Linked DNA regions of Homo sapiens: region 1 is linked to region 2. The links come from fine-mapping of genetic effects on gene expression. A gene starts in region 2. The other region holds a variant in brackets. All regions are shown on one strand. Distances are between the middles of the regions.

The links. PIP is the estimated chance that this variant, and not a neighbour inherited with it, causes the effect.
Region 1: its variant is fine-mapped to the expression of NAA60 in lung (TOPMed, PIP above 0.99).

The regions. Positions count from the first base shown.
Region 1 is chr16:3,486,861-3,495,183 of GRCh38, reverse strand. It overlaps C16orf90 (chromosome 16 open reading frame 90), which reads left to right. Exons shown (of 3, transcript NM_001080524.2): 2 at 307-660; 3 at 1,197-1,700. The coding sequence ends at 1,345. NAA60 (N-alpha-acetyltransferase 60, NatF catalytic subunit) reads right to left here. Exons shown (of 8, transcript NM_001083601.3): 8 at 8,231-8,323. Among named protein-coding and RNA genes, the nearest start is that of C16orf90, 4.5 kb to the left of the region's middle. RefSeq lists a silencer at 1,927-2,136 and an enhancer at 6,801-7,095. The variant T/G (reference allele first, on the strand shown) is at 4,222.
Region 2 is chr16:3,438,603-3,446,925 of GRCh38, reverse strand. It overlaps NAA60 (N-alpha-acetyltransferase 60, NatF catalytic subunit), which reads right to left and starts at 3,246. Exons shown (of 8, transcript NM_001083601.3): 1 at 3,089-3,246. ZNF597 (zinc finger protein 597) reads left to right here and starts at 3,422. Exons shown (of 4, transcript NM_152457.3): 1 at 3,422-3,566; 2 at 3,720-3,805; 3 at 5,993-6,119. The coding sequence starts at 3,773. RefSeq lists an enhancer at 3,013-3,162.

The DNA of each region.
Region 1 (8,323 bases), 48 kb before region 2:
CTCTTCCTAGGGTAGCGGGCAGAACAGGGTAGTAGAAAGGACTTGAGGTCCTGAAAGCACTCTTAGTACCAAGGCCCGAGGCTTCCCAGGCCTCCCTGTTGGTTGGGAGTGGGAAGAGGAGTCGTGTCTTGGGCATGGGCAGGGGAGGCAGTGGACTGAGACTATTTGACACACAGGTAAACTGAGGCCAGGTTGGCTGGGGGTGTAGCCCATCATGTGAGCTGGTCTCAGAGGTATGTGACTGCACCCTCCCCTCATGGCTGCTGTGGGGGGCTGGCCACCACCCTCCCGCTGTCTCCTCTGCAGATGCAGTGAGCCAGGCCCAAGGACGCCCCGGCCACCCTGACGCACCCCCCAACATCTACGAGGGGGGCCTGGGGTCCCCGCAGCCGCAGTGCCCCAGTGCCCAGGGAAGCAAGCCCAAGAACTTCCGGCTGCGCCACCTCCGGGGCCTGGGCCTCTACCTGGAGAGCCACCCGCCACCCACTGGCCAGTGTGAGAGCCACTGGCTGGGCCGGCTTATGGCTGGGGGCTGCCTGCCACAGCCTGAGGGCACAGCCTGGGCCCTGGACCTGCCACAGGGGACTCTGGGCCCACGTAACAGCCTCTGTTCAGCCCTTCTGGAAGCCCGATTGCCCAGGGACAGCCTGGGAAGCAGTGGTGAGCTCTGTCAAGGCAGGACTGGGCACGGGGGAAGACCCTAGGGGATGGTTGGGCTGGGGCCTCAGGCGGGCCCTTCTCCACTCCCAAGCCTCCACAGTGGCACCATGCCCCAGAAGGCCAAGATCTTGATGAATCTGTCCCCATCTCTGCATCACGCACAGCTAAGCGGGGTCTGGAGAATCCACCAGGGACAAAGCGGTGCGAGAAAAAGGGAGGATCTGGGAGGGAGGGCTGGGTGACTGCCCCAGCTCCACACTCGGTGAGGGGCCTTGGAATCTGTCTCCCTTGCTGGGCCTCAGTTTTCTCACTTGTAAAATGAGGGTTCAGGTTAGATGAGGGTCCTTCCAGCTTGAACCATTCTGTTCCCTCAACCTCCTCCCTCCCCTGGGGATTCTGTTAAGGAGGAAGCATTGCCCTCCTCCCTTCTGTTTTCAAGAATATCGGATTCTGGAAACCCCAGGGTGGGCTGCCAGCCTCCCCCCCAGCCTCCCCTTGGGTCCCTCAAGTGACTCCTTTCTCTCCTCTTTCCTCAGCTTCCAGTTCCAGCATGGACCCAGACAAGGGTGCCCTCCCCCAGCCTAGTCCTTCTAGGCTCAGGCCCAAGAGGTCCTGGGGGACCTGGGAAGAGGCCATGTGTCCCTTGTGCAAGAGAACCCGCTCTGGGGCCCTGGAGAGGCCATAGGGATCCCGAGTGCCAGGACTGGGTACAGGAGGGGCAGGATGGCCGAGGAGGCAGCCTGAGCAGGAGGGGCTCGGCCCCCGGCAGTGGCCCTGCCACATGGGGTGGCCCAGGCAGCGGCCCAGCGCCCAGGCCTGGGCCTCGGGAGAATGTGATGGGGAGAGGGAGGAGGAGGAGGTTCCGAGGGAGGGGCAGAAGCAATAGAAGCATGGCCGTGCCCTTGCAGCCTGCTTAGACTCCAGTCAGCCACTTGTACCTGGGAGGCCGGGCTGAGTGCAGAATCAGGCCCCCCCGCCACCGCCTCCCTGAGAGGCCGGGGAGCCCACAGCTCTGATCTCAATAAAAGCCAAGGCCTGCACGTTCTTGTCCATCTGCCTGTCTGTCATCAGGCCAGTTTGGTGAGAAAAACAGTCCTGTGTCTCTCCAGGGATGGGTCTGCCGCGCCCCCACTCTTAGTTGCCAGGGCATGAGAGGCGTGAGCTAGGGCAAGGGCCTGTGGGAACACCATACTTGTCTGTGAGAGCTTCCTGGATGAGACACTGCTGAGCTTGGCTCCATAGGGTGGGTAGGGGCTCAACAGCCCACCTTTTCAGCCACCATGCCTGGCTAATTTTCTTTTCTTTTTTTTTTTGAGATGCAGTCTAGAACTGTCTAGAGGCCAATTTAGAGCCAGTTTTCTTTGGGGCCAGCATGTGGCTGCAGCAGATGTCCTTCTCAGGGGTGAGATCCTGGCTACGGCTGTCTGTGGCTGAGTTACAGACTGTCTTTTTTTTTTTTTTTTTTTTGAGACGGAGTCTTGCTCTGTGGCCCAGGCTGGAGTGCAGTGGTGCAATCTCGGCTCACTTCAAGCTCCAACTCCCAGGTTCACGCCATTCTCCTGCCTCAGCCTCCCGAGTAGCTGGGACTATAGGCGCCCGCCACCGCGCCCGGCTAATTTATTTGTATTTTTTTAGTAGAGACGGGGTTTCACCGTGTTAGCCAAGATGATCTCCATCTCCTGACCTCAGCCTCCCAAAGTGCTGGGATTACAGGCGTGAGCCGCCGTGCCCGGCCTAATTTTCTGTTGTTTTAAGAGTTGGGGGGAGGGGGTCCTGCTGTTGCCCAGGCTGGTCTCAAACTCCTGAGCTCAAGTGATCCTCCTGCCTCAGGAGGATCCTAAATGCAGGCCATGGCATTGTGGGTGGAGGGCGCAGCGGATGAAGGAAGGCAGGGCGGGGTCAGGGAGGGCACCAGGGAGGACAGCAGCAGAGGCAGGGATGTGGACCTCGGCCCCACCTGCCCCCTACCAGGTGAGGTCACTGCTCCGCGGGACCCCAGCTCCCAGGTCCCTCTGGGCAGGATGAGCACAGCCCTTCTCCTCCCAGCCGGACCAGACTCTGCGCACCCAGGTGTGGGCTTCCTCTGTGCCGGGGTGTCTCCACTCGACTCTGTTGATGTTTGGGATGGGATCTTTCTTTGGGATGGAGGCTGTCCTGTGCATGTAGGATGTTAAGCAGCATCTCTGGCCACCACCCACTTGGTATCTGTAGCACCCTCCTCTAAGCTGTGACAGCAAGTGTCTCCAGACATTGTCCGGTGTCCCTCGGGAGCACTGTTACTGTGGATGAGAAGCCTGCTGATACAGTTAGGCTGTGTCCCCACCCAAATTTCATCTCCAATTGTAATCCCCATGTGTTGAGGGAGGGTTCTCATGGGAGGTGATTGGATCATGGGGTGGGGGGTGGGGGGTTCCGCCATGCTGCTCTCATGATAGTGAGTTATCACAAGATCTGATGGTTTAAAAGTGTTTGGCGGTGGGCCAGGTGCAGTGGCTCACGCCTGTAATGCCAACACTTTGGGAGGCTGAGGCGGGCGGATCACAAGGTCAGGAGATCAAGACCATCCTGGCTAACACGGTGAAACACTGTCTGTACTAAAAATACAAAAATTAGCCGGGCATGGTGGCAGCTGCCTGTAGTCCCAGCTACTCAGGAGGCTGAGGCAGGAGAATGGCATGAACCCGGGAGGCAGAGCTTGCAGTGAGCCGAGATTGTGCCACTGCACTCCAGCCTGGGTGATAGAGTGAGACTCTTGTCTCAAAAAAAGAAAAAAATAATAAAATGTGTTTGGCAGTTCCACCCTTCCTCCCCACCACCGCCTCTCTCTCTCTCTGTCCTGCCGCCTTGCCAAGAAGGTGCCTGCTTCCCCTTTGCCTTCCATGGTGATTGTAAGTTTCCTGAGGCCTCCCAGACACCTGGAACGCTGAATCAATTAAACCTCTTTTGTTTATAAATAACCCAGTCTCAGGAAGCAGTGTCAAGACGGACTAACACACTTGTTCTATTCCACCAGGTCTCCATCCTATGGGAAGAAGACGGGAGCACCTGGGTTTGCCTCAGTGACCTTCCCGTCTGGTCACTCCAGCCGGTGCAGCCCGGGTCAGGCTAGGGCTCAGCGCCACCCCTGCTTTGGGCTCCTGCCAGGTCGCATGTGACGTGCCCAGGACAGCCAGGCTCCTTCCCTTCTCCTGTACCCACCCTGGACAGTTCTTGTGTCCCTGGGACAGCAGATCCTGGAGACTTCAGTCCTTGGGTGGTTTTATGGGTTGTTCTAAGTATGCAGGCATGGCCCGGGGTGGGGGACACCCAAGGCTGTAGCGGTCCCCAGGAGGGGGAGCTCTGAGAGAGCAGGTGTTTACATGCTGCACCCAAGAGCAGCTGTGATGGGGCAGGTGTGGGTGGGATGCAGCGGGCCTGAGGTCCACTGATGAGTCACATGGGGTGGCGGAGGGGCAGCTGCCTTCTCTCTCTCCCACAACACTCATTCCCCAGAGACGCAGAGGCCAGGTGGATCCAAGAGACCACTTAAAGACTGACATTAGGGAGGCTGCTGAGTAAACA[T/G]GGAAGGACGCCTGCACCAGCCACCAGCTGCGGACGCTGGGCATAACTGAGGCCGCACAGAGGCCAGCAATACAAAGTCCTTGGAGCTTGGAGACCGTTAGGGGCCTAATCCACTTTTTTTCCCCTTTTCTTTTTTTTGAGACAGTGTCTCACTGTCTCCCAGCCTGGAGTGCAGTAGCATGATCTTAACTCACTGCAGCCTTGAACTCCTGGCCTCAAGTGATCTTCCTGCCTCAGCCTCCTGAGTAGCTGGAACCAAAGGCAGTTGCCACCATGTCCAGCTAATTACAAACTTTTTTTTGGTAGAGAAAGGGTCTTGCTATGTTGCCCCTGGTCTCCAACTCCCAGCCTCAAGCAATGCTCCCGCCTCCACCTCCTAAAGTGCTGGGATTATAGGTGAGGCTCCACGCTGGGCCCTATGTTTAACAATCATAGCTCACTGCAGCCTTGAGCTCCTGAGCCAAGTGACCCTACCATCTCAGCCTCCTGAGTAGCAGAGACTACAGGCGTGGGCCACCACCATGCCCAGCTTTTTTTTTTTTTTTTTTTTTTTTTTTTTTTTTTTGAGACGGAGTCTTGCTCTGTCGCCCAGGCAGGAGTGCAGTGGCATGATCTCGGCTCACTGCAACCTCCGCCTCCTGGGTTCACCATTGTCCTGCCTCAGCCTCCTGAGTAGCTGGGACTACAGGCGCCCGCCACCACGCCCGGCTAATTTTTTGTATTTTTAATAGAGATGGGGTTTCACCGTGTTAGGCAGAATGGTCTCGATCTCCTGACCTCGTGATCTGCCCTCCTCGGCCTCCCAAAGTGTTGGGATTACCAGTGTGAGCCACCGCGCCTGGCCGATTTTCTATTTTTTTAAGAGATGAGGGTCTCACTATGTTTCCCAGGCTGGTCTTGAACCCCTGAGCTTAAGAGATCCTCCCACCTTGGCCTCCTGAAGTACTGGGATTACAGGCATCAGCCACCGCACCTGGACTCCACTCACTTCTGAACAAAGAGTGGAGGCTCAGAGAGGAGCACAGGTTGCCCCAGGCTCCAGATTTTGGGTGGGTGGGGGGGGGGGTCCCAGGCTATGGTCAGTGGCCCTTCTGCTACCCCGGATGAGCCACGTGTCTTCGTGTTCTGGCCCCTGTGTAGCCCCCTCCCCTTGAATTGGGACAGGCTCCAGATCCTGCTTTACCAGTAGAATGTGGCAGAAGTGGCGGGGTGTCACTTCTGGGCAGTAAGGAAGCCTGGCAGCTTCCCAGGAGGTCAGTGGCCCCGTAAGGAGTCTACCCTGGGACTGTGGTATGGTGCAAAACCAGCCTAGCCTGAGGAAGCCATGGAAGGAAGGAGCCAAGCCCATGGCCACTGCTGAGCTCACTGTGGGCAGCCCTGTGGGTAGGGCCATCTTTCACACAGGTCCTCCAGCCCCGCCAGCCTGCCTGGCTAATACCACATGGAGTCCCTGCTGACTCCTGTCCCAGCTGGAATTGGAAGCAAACAGAATGGCCCCTGCTTAGGCTGTGAAGCTTTAAGACAGTCTGTTACTCCGGCAGGCACGGTGGCTCATGCCTGTAATCCCAGCACTTTGGGAGGCCGAGGTGGGCAGATCACGAGGTCAGGAGATCGAGACCATCCTGGCTAACACGGTGAAACCCCATCTCTACTAAAAATACAAAAAAAATTAGCCAGGCATGGTGGCGGGCCCCTGTAGTCCCAGCTACTCCAGAGGCTGAGGCGGGAGAATGGTGTGAACCCGGGAGGCGGAGCTTGCAGTGAGCCGAGATCACGCCACTGGACGCCAGTTTGGGGGAGAGAGCAGGTTCCGTTTCAAAAAAAAAAAAAAAAAAAAAAAAAAAAAAAAAGACAGTCTGTAACTCAGCCACAGACAGCTGTAGCCAGGATCTTACCCGAGAGGACATCTGCTGCAGCCACATGCTGGCCCCAAAGAAAACTGGCCCTAAATTGGCCTCTAGACAGTCCCTCCCGCAAAACCTCCCAAAGCCTTTTTGAGAAGCACTCCAACAGACTGAGAGGCAAAAAAGCCACAATCATGGCACGCTGGGGTGGGAGTCGATGTGGAGAAAGCAGCACTTGGCCTGAGCAAGCGGACGCTCATGAAAATACACATTGACCTCAGCCGGACGCGGTGGCTCATGCCTGTAATCCCAGCACTTTGGGAGGCCGAGGCGGGCGGATCACGCGGTCAGGAGATCGAGACCATCCTGGCTAACATGGTGAAACCCCGTCTCTACTAAAAATACAAAAAAATAGCCGGGCATGGTGGCAGGCGCCTGTTGTACCAGCTACTCGGGAGGCTGAGACAGGAGAATGGCGTGAACCCGGGAGGCCAAGCTGGCAGTGAGCCAAGATCTCACTCTGTTACCCAGGCTGGAGTGCAAACAGAATGAGATTCCATCTCAAAAAAAAAAAAAAAAAAGAAAATACACTGACCATCCCTGGGCACGCCCCTTACCCCGTGAGTCCCTGAACGCCGGTGGGCTAGGAATGGAAGACCAGGAGTCTGTCTCCGTCCTGAAAGTATGAAGGACCCCTACCCTATAGGAGATCCTTGGGTGGTGTGTGCAGGGAGCGGGGAGACCCAAGGCTGCCTCGGGCTCCACCCCTGAGCAGGCCTGGGGCAGAGCCAGCTCCGTTCAGGGCTGGCCTCCGTGCTATGTCCAGGTGCATCCTGTGTGTGTCCTACCTCTCCCTGGGTCCCACACTCCCTTTCTGCCCCCCAGTGGAGCACGAGCGTTTGTGTCCCAGCTCTGCGGTCCGGTGGGGCTATGGTGAGAGGCCTGGAGCAGTGGCAGTCCTGCCTGGCCTCACTGAAGCAGGGCCTGAGGAGCCGCAGCCCCACCTGGGCAAGTTACTAACTGGTCACACGATTGACCAAGGGCCCCAAAGAGTTACCCTCTTAACCGCAAGCTGACTCATCAGCAAAGGTGCAACTGTCCTTGCTGGAGTAACCAAGACTGTGTCTCCCCAGCAGACGCTCCCGTGGGCAAGCTCAGCGGGTTAATCTGGTTTCACTCACCCCATGGCTTTGGACATGGGTCCAGCGCGCCCAGCTGCCTGGCCTCCCAGGGCACCAGCGTCCACCCCTACTCCATCTTGCAGATGCTTCAGACCCTCTCCTGGGAGGACCCTCGGCAAGTTGCATGTCTCCCGGCCACTGGATGAGGTCAAAGGCACAGGAATGGTGTAACAGAGCAGCCACGCAGGCTTCAGAGTGGCCCAGGCCTGGGCCCAACACTCACAAACTGTGGCTCCTTGGTAACTCCCAGCCCCCGAGCCAGTTCTCCTCATCTCTAAGAGGAACAATATCATCCCTTGAGGGTGACCAGAAGTTTCCATGAGAGGCTGACGGAAGCACCAGGTCTGTGCTGGGTGGGCACGCACCTCAGGCTCCACAGCAGGGTGCACCAAATCACCCTTGGAGCCGCCTGCCTGGACTGGGCCCCAGCTCAAGGCCTACAGCCAGGGAGATGCCCAGACAGGGCAGCTGCTGGGGACCTTCCAGTGAAAAAAGGACCTAATGTGCTTCTCAACTCTAGAACCTCTTCCCCAGTTTCACATTCTTTTTCTGGAGTCTCGCTCTGTCACCAGGCTGGAGTGCAATGGCGCCATCTCAGCTCACTGTAACCTCCGCCTCCTGGGTTCAAGCTCTCCTGCCTCAGGCTCCCGAGTAGCTGGGGCTACACGTGCACACCACCACGCCCGGCTAATTTTTGTATTTTAGTAGAGATGAGGTTTCACCATGTTGGCCAGGCTGGTCTCGATCTGACCTCGTGATCCGCCCACTTCGGCCTCCCAAAGTGCTAGAATTACAGGCGTGAGCCACCGTGCCTGGCCAAAGGTCCTCATTCTCTGACAGGGTTAATCACACAAAACCACTGTCCCCTTTATCTGGAAGCCATCCTTGGGCCTTGCCAGTGACAAGTAGCTCGAGGCCAACTTCAGCTACAGGGTGAGGCCCGAGGTGCAGCCAGGCGGGTGCGGGAAACAGGATGTGACGAACTCCAATGAAAGTCTATTTATTTGCTCGTAATGAGACAGAACGCTACAATCTGTTCAACACTGGGCTGGACACTGCAGTGATCAGGGGCAGGTG
Region 2 (8,323 bases):
AGGTTGCAGTGAGCAGGCCAGGTGCGGTGGCTCATACCTGTAATCCCAGCACTTTGGGAGGCTGACATGGGCGGATCACTTGAGGCCAGGAGTTTGAGACCAGCCTGGCCAACATGGCAAAACTGCATCTCTACTAAAAATACAAAAATTAAATGGTTGTGGTGGCATCTGCCCATCATCTCATCTACTCTGGTAGCTGAGGCACAAGAATCACTTGAACCCAGGAGGCGGAAGTTGCAGTGAGCAGAGATCGCACCACTGCTCTCCAGCCTGGGCAACAGTGAGACTGTCTCAAAAAAAAAAAAACAAATAATAAAGAGTAAATAGTGGTGATCTCTGGGTGACAGGAATGTGTTGCCATTTTTTCCCCTGTATTTTCTTTTTTTTTTTTTTTTCAGACAGAGTCTCACTCTGTCACCCAGGCTGGAGTGCAGTGGTGTGATCTCGGCTCACTGCAAGCTCCGCCTCCCAGGTTCACGCCATTCTCCTGCCTCAGCCTCCCGAGTAGCTGGGACTACAGGTGCCCGCTACCACGCCTGGCTAATTTTTTGTATTTTTAGTATAGATGGGGTTTCATCGTGTTAGCCAGGATGGTCTCGATCTCCTGACCTTGTGATCTGCCCACCTCAGCCTCACAAAATGCTGGGATTACAGGCGTGAGCCACCGCACCCAGCCTTTCCTAACTTTCTGAAATGCACATATACTACTTTTGTAATGATGTTAGTTTTACTATTTTTAAAAAGATAATTTTCAGAGAAAGCAGATGCTGGGCTATAGAAATAATTTCAATACAAACAGGTTGTAGTTGTTATTACTGGTACCATGTTAAAGACAGAAATGGAAAAACTTGCAAAAGATTGTCGTGGAAGGATTTTTAAATTTTGATGATTAAAACATGTTACTTGAACATATAGTGGGTATACAGTCAAGCATTTGTGATTTTTTACAAAATTGAGTTAGGGATATAATGTGGTCTAATTTTTCAATCTTGGTCTATCTTGGACTTTGTATGTCATCTCTTTATTTTCAGGAAGATAAAGCTTTCAAGCTTCCTCCTTCTTTGTCCACTTGTTTATAGTTTTGATGGCTCTTAGGAAAGATAGTCTAGGGAAGATTTTTTCCTCTCCCATTTCAGGTATATCCCTCTCTCTCTGGTAATCCACTGAGTTAATACCACATGCTTCATTTCAAAGCATTGGAAACTGTGTTTATTTCTTTGTAATTATGGCAACAGGATTTAAAGAAGAGAGCCACGGGAGTCTCTTGTTCTTGGTGAAAGAGCCACAAATCCAGATAAGGAGAATCTCAGACCACAATGAGACAGTGCTGATGTAAGAATAGCATTAAATAGGCGGGGCGCGGTGGCTCACGCTTGTAATCCCAGCACTTTGGGAAGCCGAGGTGGATCATGAGGTCACGAGATCGAGACCATCCTGGCCAACATGATGAAACCCCATCTCTACTAAAAATACAAAAAAAAAAAATTAGCCGGACGTGGTGGCGGGCACCTGTAGTCCCAGCTACTCAGGAGGCTTAGGCAGGAGAATCATTTGAACCCCGGAGGCAGAGGTTGCAGTGAGTCAGGATTGTGCCACTGCACCCCAGTCTGGCTACAGAGTGAGACTGTCTCAAAAAAAAAAAAAAAAAAGAGATAAGCACAAACCAAGAAGGGAAAGATGACTACGTGAACACCACAGTGACTCAACCATGAACATCTCCTTTACTTACACCTTCATATACAGGCTATTAGCTCTTCTTCAACATATATGCTTTGGACTGGTCTAGCCTGTAGGCAAGTTTGTTCTTACCATTCTTCCACCTGTCCTGGAAGCACCTTTACTGGGACTTCACAGCTACCTCTTTTGTGATCCATCCCCACAAGGTCTAGCTCTTAGTTAGCTGTCAAGAGATATCATTTGTGGCAGATACTGCTAGTTTCTTATCTAACTTATTTTCCACATCTCTTTTTTTCATTTGTAACAAAGCCCTAATTTTGTGCAGGTAGATTATCAAGGGAGGCTAGGTCCTTCCCCTAGTGACAGGGGCTGAAGCATGATGGGCCCCAAACAATTATTTATTCTTGGTAATAACTAGTTTAGGATGGGTACATGACACAATACATGTCTGTATATTTTACCTGGATTCTATTGTCAACGTTACCAACATGCTTAGGGTGGCAGAGAAGCACTGGGACCTTGATGTTGTCACTGGGCCACCGAATTAACCAACCTGTAACTGCTCTTTGAACATCCTTTCGGTGGGTTTTCTGTTACTTGTAGCTGAAACTATCCTATCAGATATTCCACAAAATCACATTACCTAAGTTGTCAAATCTCCTAATATTGTTTTAATAACCATGCAGCCATTCATTAAGCTTTTAGATACAGGAATGTGCCTGGCACTGGAATAAGGAAATATGTTGAGACTTTTCAGGCTTTTCTATCAAGGTACCTATCATTTTCGTCTTTTTTTTTCCCCAAACACCTTTATAAACTGGCAATTTCTTTCACTTACATTATCTTATAATCTTTGAAATTACCCTCTGAGTTAGCCCAGAGAGGCACTCTGAGCTGTTTGCAGCTGAGGAAAGCAAAGTTGTAAACTGGCCAAGATTACCAACCAATCAGTGGCAGAGCTTGGGGAGGAGCTCAATTTTCCAATTCCAAATGCCTACACCAGGGCACTCCCTCCTCCCCCAGCACACAATAGGAAATGACTGGCTCTAGGGTAGGCTGCATGTGAGGTATCCGGGGGCGAACAACGTCCTGCGACGCTAACCTATGGCTCTATTCTCGCGTGGGATCCTGTGACTAGGAAGCTGAAGCAGCTCGCTTAGGCTGCAGCTGCGGGTACAATACGTAATGCCTCTATAACACTTTGAGTCAGAGTCCAGCAACCTGGCCTACACCGATGTGAACGTTGTGAACGTACACAAAGATACTCCTTCATGTTCCACGGCCCCACCATCCGCTCAAGACACAAAGGACAGCTCAAGCCCAGGCTAGGCCCGAACCCCCGCCCTCTCAATCACCTTGCTCTGGCCAGACCGAAATTTCAGGCCTACAGGGCACTGTTGGCCGAACCCACATTTTGTTACCGATTTTCTTTCGAGTTCCGGTGTCTCCCAGTCTTCTTTCTGTCCTTCTTCTCGGAAACATTACGTCCCCCTGGGGTCACCCTAAGACTCTACTTCAGCAGGCAAACAGGCCCGGAGCTCACGGAGGAGACCCCGCCAGCGGAAGCGGAAATGGTTGCTTAGAGAAAAGGAGGAAAACTACCTCTCGCAGCTGCCCAGTGGCTACAGGTCCTCGGTTAAGGTGTTCAATTGGTCAACACAAAAGAAGGACTTCCCCTTCGGGAGAACTTCGACCAATCAAAGGGCAGGATGGCGGAGAGGGCTGAGGGCGGGTCGCTTCCGGCGGCTTTTCCCGCAGCTCCTGCGTAAAGGAGCATGAGAGCGTGGGAGTTTTGCAGTGGCCGTGGCGTTCTTCGTCGCGTCTCGGTCGGGCGTCGCTTTCTGCAGCTCCTGTCAGGGAGCGCGAGGCCTGTTATTAACCGCGGAGCGGTAAGTGGGCCCCTTTCGAGGCCGGGCCAAGAGGAGGAGCAGTCGGCGTAGGTTTTTAAGGGGGGGTTCGGAGGGAATCGAGGGAGGCTAGGGGTAGTGGAGGAACTTGGCAGCGGAATTGGTCCCTTTAAGAACTGTTCTCTCCCCCCGCAGCTTTGTCACGAAGTCCCTGTGGCGTCTTGAAGAAGGCATTCCCCACCCGCCAAATGGCGTCCATGCCCCCGACGCCCGAGGCCCAGGTGAGTCGAGGTACCTTTTTCGTCCAAGTTTATTGCTGCTTTCGGTCTCTGCCTGACCCCCTCCTTTGGAGGAGAGTTGGGCATGCCTGTTGTGGTAGGAGTGCTCCTGAGCCCCAAATAGCCCTTTGACCAAGTGTTCTTCGTTCCAAGACCACACACATAATGGTTTACCAACTTCCTTCTTTCAGAACTACCAACTGGGAGCAGGGACCTGTGGAGGAATCTCTGAGAGAGTTTCTCAATGTCTTATCTGTTTGTTTTGTTTTGTTTGGAGATAGGGTCTGGCCTTGTCGCTGGAGTGTTGCTTGTCTGGCTGGAGTGCAGTGCTGATATCATAGCTCCGTCTGGAACTCAGGGAATCCTTACGCCTCAGCCTCTCGAGTATCTGAGAGGCGCGCATACCACAGTGTCTGGCTACTTTTAAAAGTTCTTTTTTTTTTTTTTTTGATACAGAGTCTCGCTCTGTCGCCCAGGCTGGAGTGCAGTGGCGCGATCTCGGCTCACTGCAAGCTCCGCCTCCCGGGTTCATGCCATTCTCCTGCCTCAGCCTCCCGAGTAGATGGGACTACAGGCGCCTGCCGCCACGCCCTGCTAATTTTTTGTATTTTTAGTAGAGACGGGGTTTCACCGTGTTAGCCAGGATGGTCTCAATCTCCTGACCTTGTGATCCGCCCGCCTCGGTCTCCCAAAGTGCTGGAATTACAGGTGTGAGCCACTGCGCCCGGCCTAAAACTTCTTTATGGAGATGGAGTCTTGCTGCTTTGCCAAGGAACTCCTGGCCTTCAGCTATCCTCCCACCTCGGCTCCCCAAAGTGCTAGGATTAAAAGTGACTTTCTGGAATGGTTCCCAAAATTACAGATTTGGTACTTCTCCAATTTGAATGAATTTTTAAATTAAGCACATTTCTAGACTCCACACTCGTTGAGTAATAATAAATCCCAAGTGATTAATTTATCACACCGTTAGAGAAGGTGGGGTAGGCCTGGATGAAGTGCTGGAGTGAGCTTAGCAATGAGTGTCATGGGGACGAGAGGAAATAGCAAAGGGAAGGATGTTGGGAGAATCCTGTAACCTTTATCTCTTTATGATTCTTCCTGGGCTGCCCAACTTTCTCCTTTTCTTTTCTTTTTTTTTTTTTTTTTGAGACAGTCTCGCTGCGACGCCTAGGCTGGAGTGCAATGGCGCGATCTCGGCTCACTGCAATCTCTGCCTCCTGGATTCAAACGATTCTCCTGGCCCAGCCTCCCAAGTAGCTGGGACTACAGGCGCATGCCACCACATCTGGCTAATTTCATTTTATTTTAATTTATTTTTTGAGACAGAGTTTTTTTTGTTGTTGTTTTGTTTTTGTTTTTGTTTTTGAGATGGAGTGTCGCTCTGTTGCCCAGGCTGGAGTGCAGTGGCACGATCTCAGCTCACTGCAAGCTCTGCTTGAGACGGAGTTTTACTCTTGTTGCCCAGGCTGGAGTGCAATGGTGCAATCTCGGCTTACTGCAACCTCTTTCTCCTAGGTTCAAATGATTCTCCTGCCTCAGCCTCCCAAGTAGCTGGGATTATAGGCATGCGCCACCACACCTGGCTAATTTTTTGTATTTAGTGCAGACAGAATTTCACCATGTTGGTCAGGCTGGTCTTGAACTCCTGACCTCAGGTGATCCACTCGCCTCCACCTTCCAAAGTGCTGGGGTTACAGGCGTGAGCCACTGTGCCCAGCCTTAATTTTTGTAATTTTAGTAGAGACAGGGTTTCACCATATTGGCCAGGCTGGTCTCGAACACCTGACCTCAAGTCATCTGCATCCCCCTCAGACTCCCAAAGTGTTGGGATTACAGGCATGAGCCACCACACCCGGCCCCAAACCTCTCCTTTTCTTAGAGCATCCTCACTTAATGGTTGCCTCCCTAAGAGCCATTCCCTCATCTTTTCTCTTTCAAGATAGACAATAATTCTCACAGTCCACCGTCCTTGTACCACTGCCTAAAAATGTATGTCCATGTTTACTCTCTTCTTCCCAACCCTCACCCCACCCCTTAGAACCCATTTGCCCTACTTCTGCGCTCAAGAACCTTTTACACCGAGCCTTTTATCCCGTGCATCTGATGTTTCTAGCTCTTTTCATCCTTCCTAGGTTAAGTGAGGGGCTGACCCTCCACCCTCTTGTGCTGACACAGGCTCTTGTGTTTCAGGGACCAATACTCTTTGAGGATCTGGCTGTGTATTTTTCTCAAGAGGAGTGCGTGACTCTGCACCCTGCCCAGAGGTCCCTCAGCAAAGATGGTACAAAAGAGTCTTTGGAGGATGCGGCTTTGATGGGTAAGGCAATTGTTTTTCCTGCATCTGGAACTTTTGTCAATTCTAGGAGGAGAACTTCATGCTTTATCCAGATGTTGGTATGGTGGAGTGGGACCTGTCCCTCAGTAATTTATGTGGAGGTGATAATTGTGTGAGAGAAAAAGTTTTAAAATATGAGATGATTTTTTTTTTTTGAGACAGACTCTCGCTCTGTTGCCCAGGCTGGAGTGCAGTGGCACGATCTCTGCTCACTGCAAACCGCGCCTCCCAGGTTCACGCCATTCTCCTGCCTCAGCCTCCCGAGTAGCTGGGACTACAGCCGCCTGCCACCATGCCCAGCTAATTTTTTGTATTTTTAGTAGAGACAGGGTTTCACCGTGTTAGCCAGGATGGTCTCAATCTCCTGACCTTGTGATCACCCGCCTCGGCCTCCCAAAGTGCTGGGATTACAGGCATGAGCCACTGAGCCCGGCCGAGATGATCTCTTAAAGACAAAAATTCAGTCTAGTACAGTGCCTGTGGTTTAGTACAAGAGATGGCAGTATTTGGTAATCTTTCACAAACATTTGTTGCAGTTTACAATTTTACTTGGGAAATCCCATTAGTATCGATCACTATCATTTGCTAAAGACTGGAGATTGATTTACTCTTAAGGGGTGCTATGCCTTACTCACCTAAGGGGAACCATACACAGATGGACTCCTGTGCCTGACTAGATTTTATTTCTGACTAGGATTGAGTATCTAAACTATCTATTCTAAGTAGTTATTCTAAATAGTTTGGAATAGTTGAGATACTCAATCCTAGTCAGAAAAAAATAACTAGAGTAACTAGTTATTCTGAATAACTCATATTTTGTTTCTTCCACTTCTCTCTTCATCATGTTCATGTTGTCTTCTGTCTGCGTAAATGTATGGAGTATATTTATAATGGTTATTTAAACTTTTTTTTCTTGCTAGTTTTAACATTGATGTCATTTCTGGGTCTGTTTCTATTGATTGATTTGTCTTCTAGTTATGGGTTATATTTTCTATATTTTCTTTACTTCCTGGGTAAATTTTGGTCGGATGTTAGATTAAGAATTTTATGTTGTTGGACCCGGGATTTCGTTGTATTTTTAAAAATATTTTGGACTTTGTTGTGGGAGGCAGTTAAGTTACTTGGAGTCAGTTTGACTGTTTCAAGGTGTGCTTTTTTTTTTTGCTTTGTTAGGATAGGTTCAGATCAACCTTTCTGCTAGGACTTATTTGAGTTACTGCTAAGGCAGTTTTTTTCTGTGGACGTTGCTGCTCAATGTCTTATGTCTTTCCACTTTGGCTGGAGGCAACATGAACTGGTTATTGCTCTGTTATTCCTTTTAGGTGGTTCTTTCCACGGCATTGGGTAGTTTCTTCATGCACTTGTAGATTACTACTCAGCCAAAGTTGTGGGGTTATTTTTTTTTTGATACAGTATCTTGATCTGTCACCCAGGCTGGAGTGCAGTGGCACAATCACGGCTCACTGCAGCCCTGACCTCCCAGGCTCAAGCAGTCCTCCCACCTCAGCCTCCCAAGTAGCTGGGACTACAGGCATGCACTACCATGCTTGTCTTTTTTTGTTGTTTTTTTTTTGTAGGGATGGGGCTTTGCCATGTTGCCCAGGCTGGTCTCGAGCTCCGTGGCTCAAGCAATTCTCCCACCTCAGCCTCCCAATGTGCTGGGATTACAGGTTTGAGCCACTGTACCTAGCCTCAGGAAAGTCTTAAGGGGACCCCATGTAGATGACCTGAGCTCTCTTTCTGAACAGCTGCCTCTTTGCTGTTTTGCTTTCAAATTCTAGCTGCCTTGGCATCCCTGATCTCTGAACTCAGTCCCCTCAAATCAGCAAAACCACTTGGTACTGTTTGGATTCCCATGAACTATACTGCAGCCCTTTCTAGTCAGTGAGTTGGGAAAACTGTAGAACTTTGTTTCTCTGGAAAGAAAAGTTCCTTTTGTATTGATATATTTGCTTTATAACTGAAGAATACTTGGAAAATATTACACAGGAATGTTAGTTTTGTCAGCCATTCTTGTAAGTAGATTGGCTGTTATTTTCATGCAGTACACACAGCCTTCTACCTTGATCTTTCCTCAGTGAGGAGTAAAGAGATTTTGGAGAGTTCTCCTGGTGATAATAAAACTATTTCTGATAACCCGTGTGTTTCTTTGTTATGGAAGAAAAATGCTCACTTGATTGCTTTTT